Regions from separate parts of the Homo sapiens genome. Here region 2 is linked to region 1. The links come from fine-mapping of genetic effects on gene expression. Tissue or cell type: whole blood. Region 1 holds a variant in brackets; the other region holds the start of a gene. All regions are shown on one strand. Distances are between the middles of the regions.

Region 1 (8,255 bases):
CTCTTTGGTCCTCCAAGAGTCCCTTCAACCAAAAGCCTTCTTCCCCTCTCATTTAGAGACATTTCTCTCCTTTATTTCTCTAAACTTCATTTCTTTCTTTCCTTCTCTTTTGAGACAGGGTCTCGCTCTGTTGCCCACGCTGGAGTGCAGTGATGCAATCATAGCTCACTGCAGCCTGACTTCCTGGGCTCTAGTGATCCTCCCACCTCCCACCAAGTAACGGACCACAGGCACACGCTACCATGCCCGGCTAATTTTTGCATTTTTAGTAGAGACGGGGTTTTGCCATATTGCCCAGGCTGGTCTGGAACTCCTGGGCTCAAGCGATCTGCCCACTTTGGCCTCCCACAGTGCTAGGGTTACGGGCGTGAGCCACTGCACCCAGCCTTCATTTTCTTTAATCCTCTCCTTCTGCCTTCTAGAGGACAAGCTTCCAATCCCTAATTCATCCTCCTGAGATAGTTATCCCAAATGCTGTGCCTGTTCTTCCAATCATTTATTTTTAATTGATGTTGGATTAACATCTCCGTTTGTGAGCAGCTCCTGGTCTCGTGTTGCTGTTCCCACTCTGCGCACCCTGTGTGTCTCTGGGCATCCCCATCATGCTCCTTTTCCATCCGTGCTTCCTGATGTCAGATGCTGCATGCTGCTGGGGACTGTTATTCCAAGGGTGCATGCTCGGGGTGGCCCACCTGCTGTGAGCTCATGATTCCTGAGGGTCATCAGCTATGACCTGGGCCATCGCTCCCCAGGACCACGGTCTCTCTTCTGCTCTCCGTGAACTTAAGCCAGGCGTGAGTTCTGGACACCGGGGAACTCTGTTTGTCGTCCCCCTTTGTGGACAGTTCGCCAGGAGACCCGTCTCCTTCAAATCCTCAGGGAAGCATCACTGGAAGCGAGCAGTCCTCTAATCGCAGCCCCCGATGGGGAGTGGGCATTGTAAGGCCCGGACTCACCCCCTGGACACCAGCACCTGGTGCTGTGGCTGCCCCAAGAGTCCCCTTCTAGCGGGAGCACCAGAACCCGAGCCAGGAGAAGTATGCCCCAGCGACACCTGGCCTACGTGGAGGGGTCTCCTTTCCAGGTGCAGGGAGGAGCACAGAGCCAGGCCCTGCAGAGGAAGGCACCTGGGAAGCACGGCACACGAACGGCCCCCCATGCCTGTACCTTAAAGGGGCTGACATAGGTGCCCTCGGGGGTGACGTCTCCCATCCGGTTCAGAAGGCTCTGGCGAGGAACTCTGACCTTGTGGAACATGGCGAAACTGTGGGGAAGCAGCAGGGCTTCTGTTAAACAGGGGTCCTGCCCTGAGGCTCTTCTCTTCTCCAAGGGCAGCCTAAAAGCTGATGCAATCCCCGAGGACAAAGAAAATGGCAGAGGGCAAGTAGACAGGAACATTCAACCAACTTTCTATTCAAAAAAGTAGTCTAGTCAGGAACAGTGGCTCACGCCCAGAATCCCAACTCTTTGGAAGACTGAGGCAGGAGGATTGCTTGAGCCCAGGAGTTTGAGACCAGCCTGGGCAACACAGTGAGACCCTGTTTCTAAAAAAGAAAAAAATGTAGGTTAAAAAATAGGCTGGGTGTGGTGGCTTACGCCTGTAATCCCAGCACTTTGGGAGGCCGAGGTGGGTGGATCACCTCAGGTCAGGAGTTCGAAACCAGCCTGACCAATATGGTGAAACCCCGTCTCTACTAAAAATACAAAAAAAAATTAGCCAGGAGTGGTGGCATGTGCCTGTAGTCCCAGCTACTCAGGAGGCTGAGACAGGAGAATTGTTTGAACCCGGGCGGCGGAAGTTGCAGTGAGCCAAGATCACGCCACTGCACTCCAGCCTTGGTGACAGAGCAAGACTCCACCTCAATAATAATAATAATAATAATAATAATAATAATAAAAGCATTGTGTATATGGTAAGTTGTACTCCAAGTACAGAACTCCAGATATTCAACAGAAAAGACGGGAACTGTGTTTCCAAAGATTGGAATCTCTGATTCTCATATTTCAATCTTAAACCAGAACCCACAGTGTAATAATATTGGCAAAATGAGGTTTAAAACTCTTCAGTCAAACAAAATAACTGGTGTGATGGCATTGGTGCTCCCTCGGCAAGGAAATTCACTTCTTTTGAACAGCTGAGCATAGGATTACACACACATTGTTATGGATCATGATGTATTAATAACCAAAGATACCTGTTATGGTTGTCTGGTCAGGAAAACCTATTACACAACAGTCTAGGGAATAAGGCTATGCTAGGTTAAGAATATTACATAAACTGTGCAAAAACCCCCCAAAACAAACTTCAAAATATCAATAGTTCCTATAGCAACTTGTCTGATTCCTAAGTTCACTTGCAATGCCTTAGGGCAGCAGTCCGCAACCTTTTTGGCACCAGGGACCGGTTTTATGGAAGACAATTTTTCCACGAATGAGGGGGAGGTGGGAGTGGTTTCGGGATGATTCAAGCACATTATATTTATTGTGCACTTTATTTCTATTATTATTACATGGTAACACATAATGAAATGATTATACAATTAGCCATAATGCAAAATTGCAAAATCAGTGGGAGCCTGAGCTTGTTTTCCTGCAACTAGATGGTCCCATCTGGGGGTGATGGGAGGCAGTGACAGATCATCAGGTATTAGATTCTCATAAGGAGCGCTCGCCTTAGATCCCTCACATGCGCAGTTCACAGTAGGATTCACGCTCCTATAAGAATCTAATGCCGCCACCGATCTGACAGGAGGCGGAGCTCAGGCAGTCATGTGAGCAATGGGGAGTGGCTATAAACACAGAGGAAGCTTTGCTGGCTCACCCGATGCTCACCTCCTGCTGGGTGGCCTAGTTCCTAACAGGCCACAGACTAGTACCACGGGGTTGGGGACCCCTGCCTACAGAATAGTCTTTTACTAAACCACAGAAGACTCATCTATAAAGAATAATCTCACATGCTGGAAGGGAACCAGAGGCACCCGTTTCCTGCGTGGGCTCTTCCTTGAGTCCTGCTCAGGATGCCCCCACACCCCCATTGTCACCCGGTCCTGGGCTGCCAGCTCTGCTGTGCTGGCCCGATTCACTTTCTCCCCTCCATCCCCACCTAGGACCCAGCACCTCCATCCCTACTCAGCTCTCCTGGGCTGATTTCCTGCAGCAACCATATTGGCTCTTTCCTAACTCTGCCTCTTCAGCCCATCCTCCCTGTGGGAGCTGGGCCGTTTCCCAAAGGCCTTCGGAATGGCGGAGGCCAATGTGGAGGATCCCCCCAAGCTGACCTCCATCTGCCCCTCTAATTGCATCGCCACCTTGCCATGAGGTGGTCCCACCTGCCTGTGGTGCCCCATCTGCCCCTCTAACAGCATCACCGCCTTGCCATGAGGTGGTCCTGCCTGCCTGTGGTGCCCCGTCCACCAGGTTCTCTCCTGGCCTCATGCCCTCCATGCAGTCACTGTTGACACCAGGCAGCCCTCGGCCCACCTGGGAATTCTATGCCCCACCCTGGGAAGGGTATGAGGCGGACCCCAGGGTGGGATCCCTCAACCATCAACGTTCCTGGTTCCTGGGTGAGCTAGCTGCCTCTCAGCAGTCTCCCGGGGCTCACCCCCCTCCATGAGGGGGCCACCGTGCATGGGGCCTGCCAGACTTAAGGGACGGGCACGTAAGTGGCATGGTATGAACAAGTCAGGTGGGGCAGACGACATCCTCTGAGGCACAAGGGCCAGGCCATGATCCTGACTCCCAGGACAGCCTGAGGGAAAGACACAGCGACAGTTTCCACACTACCAGGAGGAGCAAGGCCCTGGGGCCGGGTGGGGACGGGGCTGGAGCTCCTTAGGGAAACCTGGGTGACCTGGTGAGGGAAGAGCTCTCGGCTGCTTTGCCAGGCCCCTGCCCACCTGCAGGAAGTGAAGGGCAGCGGGGGGGCCAGCTCCTCCAAAGCCCTAGGCCCAGCTGCCCAGTTTGGTAGCAGCTTCCCCCATGCCACAGCCGCACACTCAGAACACCCCACCTCGTGAGAAAAACCTTGCCTCGGTGCCAATGGCCCCAGCGTGCTCCAGCCTGTTACTTGAAAGCCAAGGAATGCCTTTTCCAGTATGATCCGGTCACAGTCAGCGCCCTTTTTAAGGAGTGGAAATTATTCCCCCATTCTCACCACACAGAATATATTTATACTTGCAAAAACATTCCCGTGAGTTTCAAAGGAAAGCAAACTTCCACGAATTCTCAGGGGATCCCTTCTGTTCCACAAAAGCTATTACAGTGGTGGTCACATGTGGCCAACTCAAATACAAGCCAGATCCAGTGTCTCCAGCGGGAGACGTGTGCGTGTGTCACAGGTGTGTGTGTGCACAGCACAGGAGTTGTGTGTGTGTGTCACTGGACATGCACGTGGCACGGGAGGCCTGAGTGTGGCACAGAAACCCTCACTCCAATCCCAGAAGCGCCCAGACCTCAGCACACACCCCGCGCCCTGGACATCCTG[C/T]TTCTTATTGCAGCAGCTTCCTTCCTCCTTTGGGGCCTGGAAGGGCCCCCCAAGCCCAGCCCAGCCAAGCCGCCAGAGCAGGCCGTTGAGTTCGGCAGCCATCCTCCCAGCCACCGCCTCAGCTCAGGGCAAACGCACGAAGAAAGACCCTTAAGGTGCAGCCCACCTTAAGAGTCTGGCTGAAACTATCACTTGAGAAGATCTTTATGATTTTGCTTTTAGAGCTATTTGGCTAAAATTAATCCACACAATTTACGTTTACCTTGGATTTGTAGGCAGTCATCCCACATACTCAGGAGTTCTTGTAAAGTGACAAAATCTAACCTACAAATTGTAACCACTTTTTTCAAGATAAATGATTTCAACATTGGTAACAAAAATCACTAAATTATAATGCTGATCTTGGAAAAGACAGACATCCAGGCAGAAACTGGCTGGGAAACCCGGAGGGAACACTGGTATCACTGCGCCCCCTGCTGGGTGCCCTGCCCAGACCCTCCAGCCCTGGATGGGAAATGTGCATTTCTGGAAAGGGGCGGAGAGCAGGCCGCCTGCATCACCCCGGCTGGCTCCCATCCCAGCCCAACCTAGGCCTTCAAAGGCTCAGGGATCAAAGATGGACGAATCCCACTGCATCCCTGTCACCCTGCAGAGAGACACGGTGGAAAGGCTCTGGGGGCTCAGTGACCTGGCTTGGTGGAGCAGCTCTGAACCAGCGTCAAAGGGCGGTCGTTATTGTGTTAGTGGCGATCCTATAGGAGACCGTATTTCTGAGTCTTACAAGAGGCTTTACCATATCAGTGTGATGTATTAATCATTAATGGTTTGATCTAATGCTCCTTTGAATATTATCCCAGTAAGAGGTGTGGATTCAATCTCTAGAAATACGTTTATTAGGGGGGAACCAAGTGCAGGGTTTCTCTGCAATGTCCCAAAATAATGTCAAAGCCTCTCATTCATGAAACTGAATGAGCAGTGAAGAAGAGCCTTGCTCACACCCGAGGCCACCCACTGGATGTGACAATTCACCACCGCCATATGCCCGGGTGGAGATGCCTGTCGGGCCTTACGTGCACACATAGGACACTTCAGTAGATGGGTAACAGTGCCTGTGGCTGCAGAGCCCTGAAAGGGATCAGCCGGGTCTAATAAAAGGATGCAGATTCTCCAGAACAACACAGTGCTTCCTACACCCCATTTCCTGCACAGCGCTTCAGAGCTTCTCACCCTGAGGCCAGAGCCATCCTTCTCAAACAGACCAAGCCGCATTACATCCTCCAGATGGCTGGGGCTTCCCGCTGCCCTGAGGGCGAAGGGCCTGAACAGCGACCCTCCATACCTGCTACACGGGCACCGTCCATGCCAAGCGCCTCCCAGGCACCCTGCGAAAGTAGTCATTCAAGAGAACTGACAGCCGCAGGTCGGGGTGGCGCTCTCCTCCCTGCCAGCTCCAACATTAACTAGCAGGTTCCTTGTATTATTTTAGTATAAGCCAGTGAGAACCCAGAACTCTGCAGGACAGGTGGAGTTAGGAGGGCTGTGCATATGTGTCTTGTTTTGCTTTTTTTTTTTTTTTTTGCCTGAAATCACAAGAATTTGCTTTTTAACAATGTCCTTTTACTTTCTTCTCAAGTTGACACTGTATAAAAATCAATCAAGATTTTCCTCTTTAGTACAGTCTGGGGCCCTGCCTGTTTTAAAGGGCCAAGCAGAGATTTAAGACACTCCCTGCCCATCACCCTGACTTCTCAGAAGAGACAGGCAGAAGGAGGTTTCTCCATCGCTGAGCGCTCAGATGCCCACTGGCCCATCTTCTCCCTCTGGAGACAACCTGGTCATGATAACCAGTTATTTCCAACTCCTGTAAGGCAGGCTCCTCTCCTCTCCACCAGCCTCGCTATGAAACACTATATGAAACACGCATATCTAGAAACACTCCTGAGACATCTTTCAGGCTATCAGGCTCAGGCATGGTCATACCTTGTCCCACTACCCCCAAGTTATAAATCATCTCGTGGGCACAGAGGGGTCTACACCCTGCTGGATCAGGCTCTCGGGGGAGACAGCGTGTGGAGTCCAGCATTCGCAGTGAGGGAGGCACCAAATGGGCCAGTGGCCAGGAAGTTCAAGCCCGGCCTGCTCAGGCAGGGCCTGGCAGGGCCCTGGCACAGGGACCTCTCTTGTCACCTACTTTACAGATGAGGAAATGCCAAGAAAGCTGGTCAAGGTGACACAAAGGGCCGGCTGCACATCTGTCTCATTCCAAAAGTCATGCTGCTAATGACCTGGAGCTCCAAAATCCAATCCCTCAAAGACCCTCAAGGCCCTTGCGGCCTGGCCTCCCTACCCCGCCTGCATCCCAGCACAGGCCTGGGCCTGACACTTCCCACTGCTTCCTCCACCTGAAACGCTGCACATTCCAAAATCACTGGCCACTTCTCCCCGGCCACCCAGGCCTCCATGTGGCCATCAAGCATTCATTAGTCTTTCTAGGCCCCTCCCCTCTGCACGCCCCATCCAACCCTTCAGCCAGGCCTTGGCCACACCAACCCGGTGTCACATGTGTGCTGCTAAATAGATATATGTGGGCTGATTAAACAAATAAGCCAGCGGAATTCTCTTTCTAAGTGCTGTGACACTGGGATTACCCGGAAAGGAGCAAGCCTACTCTGGAGGCAGAAACTGCAGATATGGGTCCCTCGAGATCAGCATGGATGTGTGCAGAGGCCGAGCCGGGGGAGGCTCAGGATGCTGAGGAGGACCTCACACAGAGGAGGCAGCCCCCCAGGCAGGGGCCCCACCAGTTGTACACAGAGGTCTGGGTCTGATCTGAGAGTGTGGAGCCGCCTGCCAAGGTGAAGCTGGTTTGCTGAGGTCTCTGATCAAGTTGGCCTCCCAAAGTGGAGTTCAAGCAGGACGTGGCCAGTGCATGCACGGGGGCTAGGCGTAGGTCCCCACCGCATTTGAGTCTAAGAGGGCAGGGCATGGCATCCATGGGGCCAGTGAGATCTCAGACATGAGCGACAACGCAGCCTGGGCCTTGGCAGGAAGCTCAGGGCTCAGCAGCCTCTGTCACTCACCCATTATCCAGACCGTTCTGCCCGAGTTTTTTTCCTATGTCGCCAACCATCACTCCAGGCATGGGAAGAAGGGTCTTCGGGTCCCGGATCTATACAAAGCCACAGAAAGCAGCAAACAGCAACTGTTACAATCACACAAAAATCAAAACAAATGTGTTCAGAAACCCACAGGGTGGGCCATGGGCTCAACGCTGGGCGGCTGTGGGTTAAACCATCCTCCAGAAATGATACATCCAAGTCCTAACCCCAGGACCTGGGAATGGAAGCTTATTTGGAAATAGGGTCCTGCAGATATAATGAATTTAAGAGCATCAAGATAAGGTCATCCCAAATCACCCAGGTGGGCCCTAAATCCCACGGCAAGTGTCCTATGAGAATCAGAAGAGGAGTGGGTGTGGGGAAGAGGGGGCCATGTGGAGACGGAGGCACAGAGTACAGCGCTGGGGCTGTAGGGATCAGCCCCACAGGGTCAGTGGGTTTCTCCCCGTGTGTGGAGACAAGAGAGCATAGAGATAAAGACACAAGACAAAGAGATAAAAGAAAAGACGGCTGGGTCCGGGGGACCACTACCACCAAGACACGGAGACCGGTAGTGGCCCCGAAGGCCAGGCTGCACTGATACTTATTGGATACAAGACAAAGGCAGGATAAGGAGAGTGAGCCATCTCCAATGATAGGTAAGACCACAT
Region 2 (8,000 bases), 130 kb before region 1:
GGCCAGGTAGCATGGGACGGGGTGGGCTGGAAATGGAGGCCCACATGGCCAGGTAGCGTGGGATGAGGTGTGCTGGAAATCAGGGTCTGGGAAGGTGGAGCAGTTTCAGGTGATGCTGGAGCTGGGTGTGGGAGTTGGGGCCCGGGAGGGATGGAGGAGGAAGTCCCTGCAGTGGGGGTCCTGGGAACAGGGAGGCCGGATGCACTGCTGTCCCCACCCGTGGAGTCTCTAGGACGAGGGTGGGGCTGACTCCCAGGACTTGGGAGGGAGGGGGTCAGGTTGGGTCAGGGAAGAGACGACAGCGGGTGGAGGTTTGTGTGTGTTTCAGATAGAGACGGCTGTGCATGGGTGTGAGCTGTTGAGGCATTTTGCCCGAGCGTATCTTAGAGGTGGTGGCATTTAGGGATGAGGGGTGGGGTGTCACTTCACCTCTCGGAGCCTCTGCGTTCTTCCCTAGGACATGGGAATGGTCACAGGATTCAACCACACCTGGTCAGGGAGCAGTGGGAACGGGCTCAGCACTCGCACTGTGGAGGAGGCACCTGAGGAGCAGCTGTTTCCCCGCAGGAGCCCGAGGGTCACCAGAGGCCTCCTTGCCCCTCAGGGCGGAAGCCCCACCTTCCCGGCCCTCTTCAGTCCCCCAGGCCCCTGGGACCCTACAGAGGCAGCTCAAGCATCCCAGCCTTACCCCACAGAGCAGTGTCCCCCCTACTCACCCCCGACAGCTTCCCTATTCCTGACACCCAGGTGGCCAGAACCACAATTTAGGCCATTACCTCACCCCAGCTCCCACTGGAGGATGGAGGCCTCAGACGACCCCTGGCCAGTGGCCCCTCAGAAGGTGGACAGAGGCCGAGCGGCCTCCAGGACAGCAGCACCGTCTGCGGGCAGGTGGGGCTGGCAGTCTTGGGAGAGCCCCCTCCCTGGACAGGACATCCCCTCCCAGGAGGCAGAGGCCGCTGTGGTCCAGGGTGTTCACATTCAGCCCCTCCTGGCAGGGCTGGGTGGAGTCAGGGTGATTTCCAAGAGGGGTTCGGGCTCCAGAAAGCCAAAGGAGGAGCGCCATGTGAAAAAGAAAAAGGAGACCCTTGCCCAGCTGCGTGACCCTGATTCATCGTTTCATTTCATCAGCCAGGGTGGGTTCCATGCCCTCGAAGCCATCTCCCCGCTCCTTCCCCCTCCTCCCAGCCTTCCTCCTGTGAGCCTCCACTTCGCTTCTGTACAAGATGAGTCCCTCTGCCTAGGTTCCAATCCAATGCTGCAGCTCACTCACTGTGTGATCTTGGACACAGCGATGAGCTGTTGAGCCTCTCTGTGCCTTGCTTTCTTTATCTGTGCAATGGGCATGGCAATAGTAAGACCTCCTTCAGAGGGTGTGGTAAGGGCTAGACACCTGCACAGTCCCTAGTACACAGTACATCACAGAAGCTCAATCAATGCGACCTACTAGTATCAGTTAGCCTGGTTGTCTCAGCCACCCACTTTCCCTTTGTGGGCCTCAGTTTTTCCTTCCATAAAATGGGTATGGAACAGCAGTGTGGCTCTGGAGGAAGAACATACACTTTGGGGTCAGATCCGACTTTTCCTAAGCCTGGGTCCATCACCTAAAGGCTGAGGGGCCTTCGGCAAGTCGTGTAAACTCCCCTAGCTCGGCTTTCTGTACCTATAAAATGGCTGTAACTGGCATTCCCCCTTGAGGGGTTGTTCCCAGAGCTTACAGAAGCACCCAAGGACGGCAGAGCTGATGTCAGTGTTGGGAGGTGCAGAAAGGGTGGCCCATATCACAACCTACGCCCACCCCCCACCCATCAGCCTGAGCAGAGCCCACCCTCTGAGTCACCCACTCACACAGCCACCGCGTCTTATCACAGCTGATGATGGTCTTCAAGGTCCCTGGAGTGGTGTAAGTGATGACCTCATCTGAGACGAAGCCTGGACTTGGGCAGGGGTCAAGCCAAAGGGCCGAGCCTGCCCACAGCTTGGAGGGCTCCTCTGCAGGCCCAGGATGCGCACTGCTGTCCAGCTCTGGGCGGAGATGGAGGGATGGGATGGGGCCATGGGGTCCTGGCATGGGACAAGAGTACCCTGGAGAGAGGCAGACCCAGGCCCAGCCTGGAGGGAGTGAATTCCATTCCACTGAGGATAAGCAACGTCTCATCTTATGCTTGTTTGTAAAGAACTATCAATATTTCGGGCAGGGTGACAAGCGGGAGTAAGTAGAAATGAGCGAAGGAGGGGTGTACGTAAATTAAACAAGCTTCCTGGCATTGTTGAAGAACGAGCTGAGATAACACGGGCCAGAGGGCCGGCCCTGCGCCTGCACACGTTGGCCTGGCGGAGCCTGTATCTGGAGCTCTGGGCTGACGACAGAGGCGGTCCTGTGCTGGGAAGCCAGAGACTTAGAGGAACCTCCCGGGTGGATCCCAGGCCCTTGGGGAATCCTCTCCTACTCCTGGCCCCTAAGTCAGGTGTTCAGGGTTGGGGATGGGAGGCCCCAAAGTTTACTGAGTGAGAGGCAGTGCAGGGCGGGAGCAGCAGGGGGCGCGGCTCTCCTGAGGACAGCGCTGGGCTCCTGCCAAGCTCAAGGCAGCCACTGTGAGCCCTGCCTGCCCATTTCAGGGAAGAGCAAAGGCCACCCCAGGGAACTGCATCCCAGCTGCAGAGCAGAGAAGGGTCTTTTCACTCCGGGCCTCAGTTTCCCTCTCTGTACAAGAGGACTAAATCCCCACTGCAAGGTGGTCAAGATGGTGACCGTTGGGGGCAGCATGGTCTCCAGGGAGGAGCAAGGACTTGACCTAAGGACAGGCCAAGATCTGAGGCCCACCTGCCAGAATCTCTGGCCTTGCACTCCCCCAGCCCTGTTCTAAGGATCCTAACGCCCACCTCTCAGGCGCTTCGTGAAGACTGAGTCAAGTGTATGCAGAGCGCTCCAGCAGCCTCAGGGCCTACACATCGGTAGCTGTGGTTCCTTGGAAGCTGTGGCAGGCTGTGCAAACTCTGACCTGCTGCAGCGCCGGTCCTGGACTCTCTCAGAGACTCAGTTTCCCCATTGTAGAGGAAAAGCTTAGGGGAAATGAGCTCTTGGGCCCTTCCCAGGGACTTAGTTTTCTGCGCACTGAAGGATCCAGGGATGGAAAAGTGTTGATCTTCAGGGCCAGGTGTCTGCAGGAAAACACAGGCCCCCCAAAAAGCCAGCTCTGGGCCACAGTAGCCCACCAAGGCTTACTCGAGGGGCAGGCATCCTGGGCACGTGAAAAATTCTCCTTGCGCCTTAGGCAAGCCCACCCTGCAGAGACATGAACCGGGAGCCCTGGCCAAGGTTGAGGGAGGTTCAGCCCAGCCCTGAGGTCCCCAACTCCTAGCATTCTGGGTCATTCCAAAAAATGGCCTGAAATTCTCCACATCTTCAAAGTAAAGTGCACTTGAGGTTTGTAGAGGCAGAAACGCAGGTGCTATTGCCCCTTGTCAAAGGGCCTTTTAGGGGGAGAAGCTCCAGGTCCCTTCTCTCCCCGTCCCCTGGGACCCTTCAACCTTTCACTCTCTCTGGGTCCTATGGGGGCTCACACTTGGCGCCCCGCCTCCTCCCACCTCATCCTCCCCAGACATCTTGTCTGATGGGGCCGCTCCCTACTCAACGCCTCCCCAGGCCTTTGAGGACCCAGGGCCCTCAGGGATCAGGCCCCTCCACCTTCCCATTCCCCGAGGCCCTTTAACCTCCAGCTCCCCCTCCCTCCTCTGGACCAGAGGTACCCCTCCCCATTCTTAACTTGGGTATCTGTGAACCTGGATGGAAAAACGTCTTTATTTACCCCAACAACTCCAACTGAAGTCCAGCATTCATTCCTTTGGGGGTGCAGTTGACCCCAGCCAGCAGGGCCTGTGGCTCCACGGCCAGCAGAAGCAGTGTTTACATCCCCATGTTACCGCCCTCACCGAAGGTGTCTCCAGTGGCAGCCCTCTGCACAGGGCTGCTGCGAAGTGTCCACTGGTATCAGACGACAGACCGACCAGAACCTGCCATTAACATGCTGATAAAGAAGCCCATAGGCCACGCTGTCATGAATTGTTTCATGTATTTTGATAACTGTGTTTTGATAGAATTGTTCCCCTTTGTGACCCCATGGTCTTTGTTTTATGCGTTTAAATCTACTTGACGACATCGTTCTGAAAAGGACACCCAGGCTTCGCCAGGCAGCCCAGGGTACTAGGAACACACACAGTGTGAAGACCGCAGCTCCAGGCTGTGCGCGCGGCGTTATCTCCTGCTGCCCCGACCTGCTTTTGCTTGGGAGCCTCTGCCCAGGTCACGGCCAGCTCCCGCTTCCCATCCTTCCTCTTCAGGCTTGACATTCACCTCCAAGGGGGGTTCTGCCTTCTCTCACAACTCCGCAGCCTTCACCCCATCAGCTGACGCACTGTCACCAGATTCTGACTCTCGTGATGGGACCTGGGTCTGAAGGGGCCCTGCAGAAAATGCAGGAGCAATGATGAGAATGGAAACAGCTTCCGGTTCCGTGGACAGCGAGGACTCGGGAACACTGCTCAGCCATGGCCTCTGTGGTTCTTCCAACGACCCTATGAGGTTGAGAAATGCTGTCAATTCCCCTTTCCTGGAGGAGGAAACTGAGGCACAGAGGAGACTGGACACGGACAGACCCCTCCAGAGCGGGGAGAACGCATCCCCCAACGTTTCTGGGATAGGCTGGGCCCGGGGGTCCCCACCAGAAAGGACCCCTGCGTGTCTGTAGCCTCGGGTTTTCTCGACCAGGCCGACCAGAGTCCCAAGGCCTGCCGGGTGGGTCCAGGCCCGGAAGGCCAGGCGGGGCCCTGTCGGGGCCTGGGCGGGGCTGGCGGAGGGGCCGGGCCGCCCCTTCCAGCGAGGGCGGGCTGGGCGGTCGCCTTTAAAGGCGCGGGACCCGCCGCCCGCGGACCGTCAGGCTGGAGGGAGCTGGTCCCTGCGCTCCCTGCGCCCTGGGGATGCCCCTGCCGCCCTGACGCCCGCCAGCCTGAGCCACCGGCGCATGTGACCGCGCGTCCGCCCCAGTCCCATCCGTAGGCGCCCGGCGCCCGGCCCCGCAGCGGCCTCGTTGTCCCCGCCGGCCCCCGCCCGGTCTCCCGCGCTGCCACCCGCCGCCGGCCCTGCCGCCATGCAGGCGCGAGCGCTGCTCCTGGCCGCGTTGGCCGCGCTGGCGCTGGCCCGGGAGCCCCCTGCGGCGCCGTGTCCCGCGCGCTGCGACGTGTCGCGGTGTCCCAGCCCCCGCTGCCCCGGCGGCTACGTGCCCGACCTCTGCAACTGCTGCCTGGTGTGCGCCGCCAGCGAGGGCGAGCCCTGTGGCGGCCCTCTGGACTCGCCTTGCGGCGAGAGCCTGGAGTGCGTGCGCGGCCTATGCCGCTGCCGCTGGTCGCACGCCGTGTGTGGCACCGACGGGCACACCTATGCCAACGTGTGCGCGCTGCAGGCGGCCAGCCGCCGCGCGCTGCAGCTCTCCGGGACGCCCGTGCGCCAGCTGCAGAAGGGCGCCTGCCCGTTGGGTAAGCGCTCGGGGGCCAGGGAGGAAGTGAAGCTTCTTTCTCTTGGGGAAACTAAGGCCGGGAGTTAGGGCCGAGCTCGAGGTCGCCCTTCCCTGGGCACCACCGGGTGGCCCTTCAGAAATCATCCCACCAGCCCTCTGGTCTTTCAGATGAAGAAACTGAGGCCCGGAAAGGTAAACCGCTGTCCCCAAGGTCACAGAATTAGAGTCAAAAGGGAAACCCGGTGGTCTCCTGGCCACCCGAGGGGCCTCATCTAGGACTGTTTCCAGCTCTGGTCTCTTCAGAACTGATGTCTCGTGCCCATTCCCTTGATCCTTGGACCCCTGCTCTGTCCGGGTATTGAGTGAAGGGCACTCTTTCCTGCCCTAACTCTCCAGCCGGGGTGCCCTCTTGGGTGATGCCTTCTTTCCTGGAGACTGTGGTTAAGTGCATGTCTCCACAGGACTGTGTGGGAAGGGTCAGGGTGCAGGTCCCTGAACTGCTTAGGGCGCCCCAGGGAGAGGCTGCTTGGGGGAGAGAATGTCGGGGTCAGACCCTAGAACAGCCTCCCTTGAGGCAGTCGGCTCTAGGTTGCATCTCACCGTGCAGGTTGACTCTGTACGTGGAGGAAAATGCTGGAAAACCTGCTGTACCTTTTTCCCTGTTTGGGGTGCCTCTTAGGAAAGCAGACTCTGCTGTGGCCGGACAGGGGTTCACTGAAGACAGGCGACGGGCCCCAGGTTCATGGATAGGAGTCAGGGTCCTGCGTGCCATCAGCTTGCAGGTGGCAGGGAGAGATGCAGTAGCTGCCAGAACAGGCTCCGTGGAGCCTCAGGAGCACCATGGGGAGCACCAACTGCCGGGGCTCCTGGGAAGCCTGCAGAGGGCTTCCTCATTTTTTCTGCGGTCCGCTGAACACAATTCCAAGTGTTTTCATGGTGTAAAAAGGTTGGGGAACTGAGCGCTCTATTCCTGTAGTGGAGACTCACAGGCTCAATCTATCAGAGGTTCTGAGAAAACCTGCAGTGTCCTCAATTGATGAAACCCAGGGCTTCCCCAGAGAATTTCAACAGAGAGCTCTTCTTTTCTGGCAGAACACGTGACCTCCTCCCAGCACGCTGGGGTTCCTGGGAGCCCCGTGTGGGAAGCATCATTCGAGATTAGCTAGGATTATGTGGAAGAGCCACCGCAGGGTTTGGCGGGGAGTCCCAGTCCACCTTGTGCTGGTACAACGCCTGAGACTGGGCAGTTTATACAGGACAGAGATGTATTTCTCGCAGCTCTGGAGGCTGGAAAGTTCAAGACCAAGGTGCCAGCAGGCTTGGTTGTCTGGTGAGGGCTGCACTCTGCGGAAGGGAGGAAGCTGCGTCTTCACACGGCAGAAGTGCAGGCAGGGACAAGGCCGAACGCTGCCTGTAGCCTCTCTCATAAGGAGCTTCTGCCCACGCTCGAAAGGAGGAACCCTTGTGACCTCATCACCTCCTAACACCCCACCTTTTCATACCATCACATTGGCAACACCTCTGTTTTGGAGGGAACATGTTCAAACCATCATGGGGGTGAGGGTGATGAGGTCCGGCTTGTGTTGAGACTGCCCAGGAGGCTGAGGGGTGCGAGTGTGGGGCTGCGGGGTCTTGGAGACGTTGTCATTGACTCAACGCCTGCTGCACTGTCACAGTGGCACATCAGTTTGGGGCTTGGTGCTGGGGTACCTTTCCTGGGCCTGCCCGTTGCAGCCCAGCTGTGTGCATGGGGGCCACCTCCCCACCCCGCTCCCCACCGTGGAAGGCACTATGAGAATAGGGCTGCAGGGCTCAGGGCTGGCAGGGAGCTGGAGGCAGCCTGGGTGTTCTGAGACACTCACTGACTTCTGGAGTTCGCGTCATGAGGCACTTTCTCTGTGTGCCTGGCTGGCCCCAGGCTGGTGACAGGGCACAGCCATGTAGCAGACCCTGTTGGTGCCCTCAAGCCTCACAGACCATCGAGGGGACAGAAGGGAGGAGGAAAATAGTCTTATCCCCAGAGACAGGTGCATGGGGAGCTCAGAAGGCCAGGAGGTGGCCGTGAGCGTGGGGGGTCATGGGCTGAGGCCTCAGTGCTCCGGGGTCTGCAGTCCCAGCGCACCTCTTCCCGATGAGGTGACCTTAGACCACTTGCTCACCGTGAGTTTCCTCAAATGAGAAGCGGGGACCTGCAGGAGAGCTGCTGCCAGACACGAAGGCACACGCCCCTTGCCTGATGGGCAACCCCCAGACCACGTTGTTTCATATGTTGTTATCACTGTGGCGACCGACCCAAATCTGTCTCACCCAGCAAGGTCAGGAGAGGCTCTCCAGAGGAGGCGCTTCTGTGCCAAGCTGTGGAGGAGGACTGGGAACTGCCTGGGGAAGGATGGGGAGGACAGAGAGGGCATGGGCAAGGCAGAGACCTGCACAGGACCCGAGAGCCCTGTCGCCACCAGAGCCCACGGAGCCAGGTGGGGAAATGGG

What was found. PIP is the estimated chance that this variant, and not a neighbour inherited with it, causes the effect.
Region 2: it holds the start of HTRA3, and the variant in region 1 is fine-mapped to the expression of HTRA3 in whole blood (TOPMed, PIP above 0.99).

What each region holds. Positions count from the first base shown.
Region 1 is chr4:8,398,389-8,406,643 of GRCh38, forward strand. It overlaps ACOX3 (acyl-CoA oxidase 3, pristanoyl), which reads right to left. Exons shown (of 18, transcript NM_003501.3): 7 at 7,567-7,655; 8 at 1,168-1,264. Among named protein-coding and RNA genes, the nearest start is that of ACOX3, 38 kb to the right of the region's middle. RefSeq lists a silencer at 5,036-5,233. The variant C/T (reference allele first, on the strand shown) is at 4,487.
Region 2 is chr4:8,264,822-8,272,821 of GRCh38, forward strand. It overlaps HTRA3 (HtrA serine peptidase 3), which reads left to right and starts at 4,933. Exons shown (of 9, transcript NM_053044.5): 1 at 4,933-5,532. The coding sequence starts at 5,148. LOC105374373 (a long non-coding RNA gene) reads right to left here and starts at 5,360. Exons shown (of 2, transcript XR_001741572.2): 1 at 5,286-5,360; 2 at 3,785-4,575. RefSeq lists a silencer at 2,469-2,618.